2 linked regions of the Homo sapiens genome follow. The protein of the gene in region 2 interacts with the protein of the main gene of each other region in a biochemical or structural test. Each region holds a gene or a part of one and is shown on either strand. Other genes may lie near its edges.

What was found. The genes of interacting proteins can lie anywhere in the genome.
Region 1: the proteins of CCNB2 (region 2) and TGFBR2 form a complex in vitro, tested with the Homo sapiens proteins (one study listed by BioGRID).

Annotation. Positions count from the first base shown.
Region 1 is NC_000003.12:30,648,034-30,651,688, forward strand, and holds part of TGFBR2 (TGF-beta receptor type-2 isoform B precursor), read left to right. Parts: intron 1-2,236; coding exon 2,237-2,427; intron 2,428-3,655. UniProt on the Homo sapiens protein: Transmembrane serine/threonine kinase forming with the TGF-beta type I serine/threonine kinase receptor, TGFBR1, the non-promiscuous receptor for the TGF-beta cytokines TGFB1, TGFB2 and TGFB3.
Region 2 is NC_000015.10:59,108,056-59,111,710, reverse strand, and holds part of CCNB2 (G2/mitotic-specific cyclin-B2), read right to left. Parts: intron 1-3,655. UniProt on the Homo sapiens protein: Essential for the control of the cell cycle at the G2/M (mitosis) transition.

The sequences.
Region 1 (3,655 bases), on a different chromosome or scaffold from region 2:
AGTGGCTCAGAGCAAATGTTGCAGGACAAAAAAAGAAGTCCGTATTTACTTCTTTGTATTTACCTTTCCTATGCTCAGCTATATCCAAAAAGAGTTTGAAAAGTTAGCTGTGCCTGGCTGTTACAGGAGTGAGTGGAGAAAGCAGTTAAGGGCTTTACCAGGTCTCAAGTATTACAGTTGTTTTCTCTCTGTGATGTTAGTTCTCTCAGTAGCTAAGAGGTAGAAAACCGGAGGCTCTGGAAGAGCTGCCCAATAATTATAGAGCAGCTTTCTTTCATGGCTCACAGTTCCTTCTTAGGCCTCTATAAGCGTCACAAGGAAAAGAGACCATGCCTTTCTGTGGGCACAGCATACCTTCGTTTTATTACCCAAACCAAAAACAACCTACACACACACACACACACACACACACACACACACACACACACAAAACTGTGGGGGCAGGGAGGAAGGTGTTCTTGTTCCATGACTACAGCTGATTTGAAGACTGCCAAGTAGCTTTGGGGTTAAAGATGGGTAGATTTCCAAATTATACATCATTTGTTGTATGATCATGCCAACTTTCATTTAGTTTCATTTGGTGTCCTGATAGCCACCCTCAACCAATTATTCTGCTTGTCACTCTTCCTGTCACAGCAGGGACCAACTTAGCAAAGCCTTGCTCCTCTTGTGTCTTTCGGAATTCTAGTTTAAGAACCCTTGAGCCCCTTCACAAGCAGACACATGTACCTCCACTGGAGTCAACTCTGGGCTGCATGGATGTTGACACTGGCACCATTCCTGCCTGGATTGTCCTAACCCATACCCTTGCCCTTATCCCTTTGTCAACATATTGTCCTTTAATGTCCTTGACTTAAGCACTAAAAAAGTGGTATTGGTCAAAGTTGCTCTTTCTCTCATGGGGATGGCCCCGCATCTTTTATAGGTGCAAGCTGTGTCTTAGCTGCTTCTTGCTTCTAGCCTGCCTTCCGTTTTCCTTGCTGTGAGCAGTGAGCCTTTGTGCATGGGGCAGGGAGGATTAGGGGAAAATTGGTGAGTGAGTACATGCATGCATTGGCTCATGTGTGCACTCAGAATCTTCATAGAAGATTACTCTAGCAAAACTGACTGGACCAGATTAGCCCTTCCTTCCGCTCCCTCTCTAGACAGAGAGAATGCGATTCAAGACAACAGGTATTTTGCATCTAAAAAGGACAGAGGTGAAAGGGTGGATGTCAGACTAGCCTTGTTGGACAGTCATCCAAGATAGTATGTTCATGAGGGAGCAGAGGGAGGTAGATAGAGAGGTGATACCCTTTTCCAAGAGAGCCAAAATGTTCTTTTGTTCAATTATAATAGTGGGCATTAATCATGTTGTTTAAAAATCTAATGTACACTGACGGCCAATTGAGCATTTCCTAGGGCCCAAGGAAAATGCTATGTGAGAAATTCTCTGAGCCCTGGGCTAAATTAGTCTTCAAATATGTGCTATGAAGTGATACTGTCAAAGTAGTTAGTTTATGACAGCATAAAATATTTCATTGAACTGTAAATGAAGAACACCCTGACATCCCTTTCCATTTCTTTTATTTATTTGTTTTTTTTGTTTGTTTGTTTTTTCTGAATTGCTCCTTTCTGTAATTTGGGAAAGACTGCAGTTCTTTATCTGCGATGTTTCTTCCCGTTTTTCTCAGCAGAACCAGCTGTTGACAAGGAGTATACCCTTTACACGCAATGCTCTGGGGCCCAGCAAACAAAAAAAAGAGGAACTGTGACTATTTCCCCAGGCATGCTCTTTGAAAACAGTATAGCTAGACAGGACAGATTTTGCCACTTAAACTAGGGGTGTGATGTGAGGTTTGCATTACATTCAGGATGGAAGATTTAAAATTATCCTGAGTACCTAGGAATGTTCTTTTTTTCCATGTCTTCCCCTTTAATGATTTAATTAAGACTTAAATATGTAAAGTTCTCCACCAGGACTGCCCCGTGGAACGCTGTCTGCTCCAGGTGATGTTTATAATCACAAATGGGTTCCAAGAATAAACAAAGGAAAAACAGAAAAGAGTAGAAAAGCATAGGAGACTATAGGACAGCCTGCGAATGCTGGAGAACAGGAACCAGCTGCCGTTGTTAGGAACAACTTCATGAAGGAAAAGTATTCCAGATTGCCTTTCTGTCTGGAGGCCATATTATTCATTTATTCTCTTTCTCTCTCTCCCTCTCCCCTCGCTTCCAATGAATCTCTTCACTCTAGGAGAAAGAATGACGAGAACATAACACTAGAGACAGTTTGCCATGACCCCAAGCTCCCCTACCATGACTTTATTCTGGAAGATGCTGCTTCTCCAAAGTGCATTATGAAGGAAAAAAAAAAGCCTGGTGAGACTTTCTTCATGTGTTCCTGTAGCTCTGATGAGTGCAATGACAACATCATCTTCTCAGAAGGTGAGTTTTCTTCTCTTAAGGGTGTGGGACCTGAGATCTGTGCCAATTTTTTGTATCCTTGGTCTGCAGTGTCATAGAGCACATTCCTCCTGTGGTGGATTGCATACAGTGGATTAGGAGCTCATTCAGCTGGTGGAAAGAGGGGCTTGGGGAGTAGCAGGGTTTGTTCTGGTTCTCATCAAATATGGTTGACTGGGGCAAACATTATTATTTGTCTTTGACAAATAGTTTCTTTCACCTAGAGCAGTGTTTCTCAAAGTGCGGCCTCTTGAGCAGCCAGCATCAGTATCACCTGGGAACCTGTTATAAATGCAGATTCTCAGGCCCCACTAAATGAGAAACATAGAGGGTGAACCCCAGCTATCTGTATTTTAACAAGCCCTCCCAGTAATTCTGTGCAGCTAAAATTTGGTAACTATTGTTCTAAAGATTTGGATGGGGTTGTTTAATCTTGGAGGAGGACTTTCTTTATAACTGATGTTGTTTCTTGTACATAGTCCCAGGATTTGTCTTTAGGGTACTTGTCATCGATCCCATTTGAGAGAAACATTGCAATACAGAGAGGAAATAATAAGCCAAAGTTTACCCCTAGAGCCAGGAGAAGAGTAGATTAGATACTAGCCTCCATCTTTGAAGTTCAGCGTTTACTCAGCTTGAAAGGAAGGCATACACTATTCCCTCAATTTTTAATAAGAAGAGAATTCAGTGGTTTTTAATTACAAAAGTAGTATATGCTCGTCATCAAAAATTTCAAACAATCCAACAGTGTGTGAAAATTAAAAATGAAAGTACATTTTCGTCCTCCCCTCACTCCCAATGCAACAGATCATCTGTATTGACAATGTATTAGATGCACACACGTCTCTATCATTCATTCATATTATCTCCCACTCCATCCTCTCTCCCAATCTCTCCCTGTCTTCCTTTCTCTTTCCCTCCTTTCATCCATCTGTCCATCCTTCCATCCACTCATCCATCTTTCAGTACAACTATCTGATCATACTATAAATATTATTTTGCAACACTTTTTTATACCCAACCACTTTTACAATTCCTTCTAAACAAGATAGAACACATAGATATACTGTACATCTTTTAATTTAGTCTCGAATTTCATATTATCTCCCACGATGGATCTTATCATGTCCCTGTTGATGGATTGTCTTCAGTTTTTCCACTTAATGCTACATTGAATATCTTTGTAAAAATATCTCATGCATTTGTGCTA
Region 2 (3,655 bases):
GGCAATTCTGGGAACTGCAAATTGATTTGAGATGTCAGCAGGATAGCCTGTGAGGTATGAGAAGATGAGCTGAAAAGCTGAACAACAGCCGAGCTTCTAGAAGCTTAGATTTTATCCAAACGTTAAGGTGAAAAACTGAAGGAGTTTATCAAGTGACTAGAATCAGATTTGCATTGTAATAAGCATATGCAGCTTCAGCTGAAGGTTAACTTTTTCAAGGATAAGCATTATCACCCACCCCTGGAAGGGCAGTCAATAACAAAAAGTCTGGTTTAAGGAGATAGAGGTTATCATGTGCTATCATACCACTTTAGAATATTTTTCTGGCTCCTATTCAGAAGTGCAACTGAGTTTAGCCATATCCAAAAGCCACCAAGGGCTTGGCGTGGTGGCTCACATCTGTGATCCGGGCACTTTGGAAGCCCAAGGTGGGAGGATTGCTTGTGCCCAGGAGTTTGAGTCCAACCTGGGCAACATAGTGAGATCTTCTCCATCAATCAAGCAGTCAACAACAAAAGCCACTAGGATAAGACAAAGATTCTTGCCCTGGCCCTTAATTTAGAATTCCTTGAAAGCATTCATTTTGAACTCCAACATAATTTAATTATTGTAAGACCCTTTCTAAGATCCTACTCATCTGGTCAGGTAATCTGTTCTAGCTATGACTCCTCAGTACCTCTCATAAGCATGCATCTCTCTTTGTGACAGATAAAGCCATACTTCTACTCCTATGTCCTCCAACTTGACTGGGAGCTCCTCTAGACAGAATCGATGGTTTATTCAACTTGTTTCCCCAGTGTCCAGCAAACATGGGACTAGTAGAAAGCCTTCCATGTCCTTTCTAACTACTGTGTTTACCAAAGCCTCATTAATCAGCAAAAAACACCATTTTCTCCAAAACCTGCAGGATAATAAGCTTCTATGACTACCTGTAAAGGGCTGGAACTCTTCCGAGGTCTCAGCCAGGGCACTTTGTGATTCAGTTGTGTCAACTGCTACAGAGAAAGAAACCTGCCCTCCAGTTTTGCAAAAAGGATAGTATAAATTTGGTTAGAAGACTGGGAACATCTCCTATCATGGACACATGGCTTATGTTATCACCTTTCCAGGAAAATTGATAGAAACCTGTGCACTCAAGTGGCATTTCCACACCTCCAGGGATTGGCTCTAAAGAACAGTGATAACCCTGCAGATAAAGCAGATGACAAAGTAAAAGCCAGAAGGCTGACCAGAGACAGGCAGGCAGAGAGACTCACCTGCTAGAAGGTGGGACTCTACCTAAATCGTGGACTTAGAGATTCCTTCACTACTTTCTCAGAGGGAAATGTATTTGAATTGGAAATAATTCCTGTTCATTAATTCCTCATAACTTCTAAATCTAGAACATGTAGCTATATGTTTCAACCCTGGAATTGATTTTTATATGAACTGAGCTACGGGTCCATAATGCTTTATCTCAAACAGTGGCCTCAATTTTGCCAGGAAGCAAGAGAAAAAGGAGTCAGCCAAGGAGTAAAGGAAACACAAAAAGGATGAAGTTATGGAGGTCACAGGAGGAAACTATTTTTCCCTTTGTTTCTTTAGTAACATATTTATGGTCTTTGCTTTTAAAAAAAGAAAAAAAAAAGCCTTCTTTTCTTCTTCTCTAACTTGAACAGTAATATGTACCCATGGTAAAAGTTTGAAGTTTTTTGTTTTTGTTCTTGTTTTGTTGTTGTTGTTTTTTGAGACAGAGTCTCGCTGTCGCCCAGGCTGGAGTGCAGTGGCACAATCTCGGCTCACTGCAGGCTCCGGCCCCCAGGGTTCACGCCATTCTCCTGCCTCAGCCTCCCAAGTAGCTGGGACTACAGGCGCCCACCACCTCGCCCGGCTAATTTTTTGTATTTTTAGTAGAGACGGGGTTTTACTGTGTTAGCCAGGATGGTCTCGATCTCCTGACCTCGCGATCCGCCCGCCTCGGCCTCCCAAAGTGCTGGGATTACAGGCGTGAGCCACTGCACCCGGCCAAAGTTTGACGTTTTAAGGAAGAAAATGAAAGTCAATCTTAAGTCCAACATAATATTCAAAAATAACTACCATCAATATTCTGCATACAAATGTACATTTTAAAAGCAAATCTGGGGTTGCACTGTTTATATATTGTTATAATCTGATTTTTCCACTTAATGTTACAAGCATTTTGATGCCTTTAAATATTCTACTAAAACATGATATTTATGGCTGCATAGTATTTCCTTAAATGGATTTAACTAGGGTATTTCTCTACTCTATAAGAGACACTCATCATAGCACTATCTAAAAGTACTTGATTATCCCTCTGATCATTTTCTTTGGATAAAAAACAAAGCTACTGGGTATGGAGAATAACCATTTGAAATATACTACCGCCAGGCGCAGTGGCTCACACCTGTAATCCCAGCACTTTGAGGGGCGGGGGCAGGTGGATCACCTGAGGTCAAGAGTTGGAGACCAGCCAGGCCAACATAGTGAAAATCAGCTGGGCATGGTAGCATGCACCTGTAATCCCAGCTACTCGGGAGGCTGAGACAGGAGAATCGCTTGAACCCGGGAGGCGGAGGTTGCAGTTAGCAGAGATCGAGCCACTGAACTGCAGCCTGGGCGACAGAGCAAGACTCCGTCCCCCCCCAAAAATATATACATATACTGCCAAATCGCCCTCCTGCGATGTGGGAGGAACCACATTCAAACCATTACACATGTAAAACACTGCACAACTGCTAAGAGATCAAGGTCTGAAAACCAGCCTTTGGGTTTGGCTTTCAGGAGGTCACTGTTATAGAAACCTTCTAGGGAAGGCTTTTTAAATGAAGTCCCATCTCAACTACTTTTTCTAAGCTTTAGTTCTCATAAAGAGCAAAGAGCTTTCAACCATCATCTCTGTGAAGAAAGCTGACAAATCTGTTCCTTGCCTTCAGATGTTGCTGCCACATTTCCAACTGCATTTCCAGGCAGATGTCCCTCGGTTACCTCAACAAATCGGAAGCCAAACAGGATACCTTTACCAAAGCTACCGCCCTCTCCTGACTTTCCTACTTTTTGTTCATTTATTGCATAAATGGTTTATTTAATATCCAAGTGGGTAAGGATACCACTCCTGCAGTGCAAGCCATGTGTCCAAAGTATTCTTTCCTAAATACAAGATGAAAGACATTCTGAGACATCCTAACACATTTGATGTTGTTTCTTCATACCCACTATTGATACTGGTGTATGGGTAGGCGCTTAGGGAAGATCTGGGCTAGCTCCAGACCCTCATCAGCTCTTGCTTGGATAAGTGCAATACCTCCTAACTTACCTCCCTACATTGTTTTCATCATTTCGGTACTCCTCAAAACTTTGTTTCCTCAAGCCTAATGGGATAAAAATCCAAATTCCAAGTCCTTCAAATCCAACTGCAACCTTCTTCCCAGCCTTATCTTCTGGTTCCTCACTCAAGCCGCCTGACTCAGTTAAGTCTTTCAGACTCCTTAACGAAAGGACATGATTATAGGTCCATATCCGCTTTGGTACCTTGATCTTTGTTGCTACTTTGTTCTCCACAAACGTGCCCTTTCCTGTCAGCTATCATCTTCTCTCTACCCCTAAAAATCTCACTCATTCCATGAATTTTCTGAACCATTCTGTCCTTTATTTG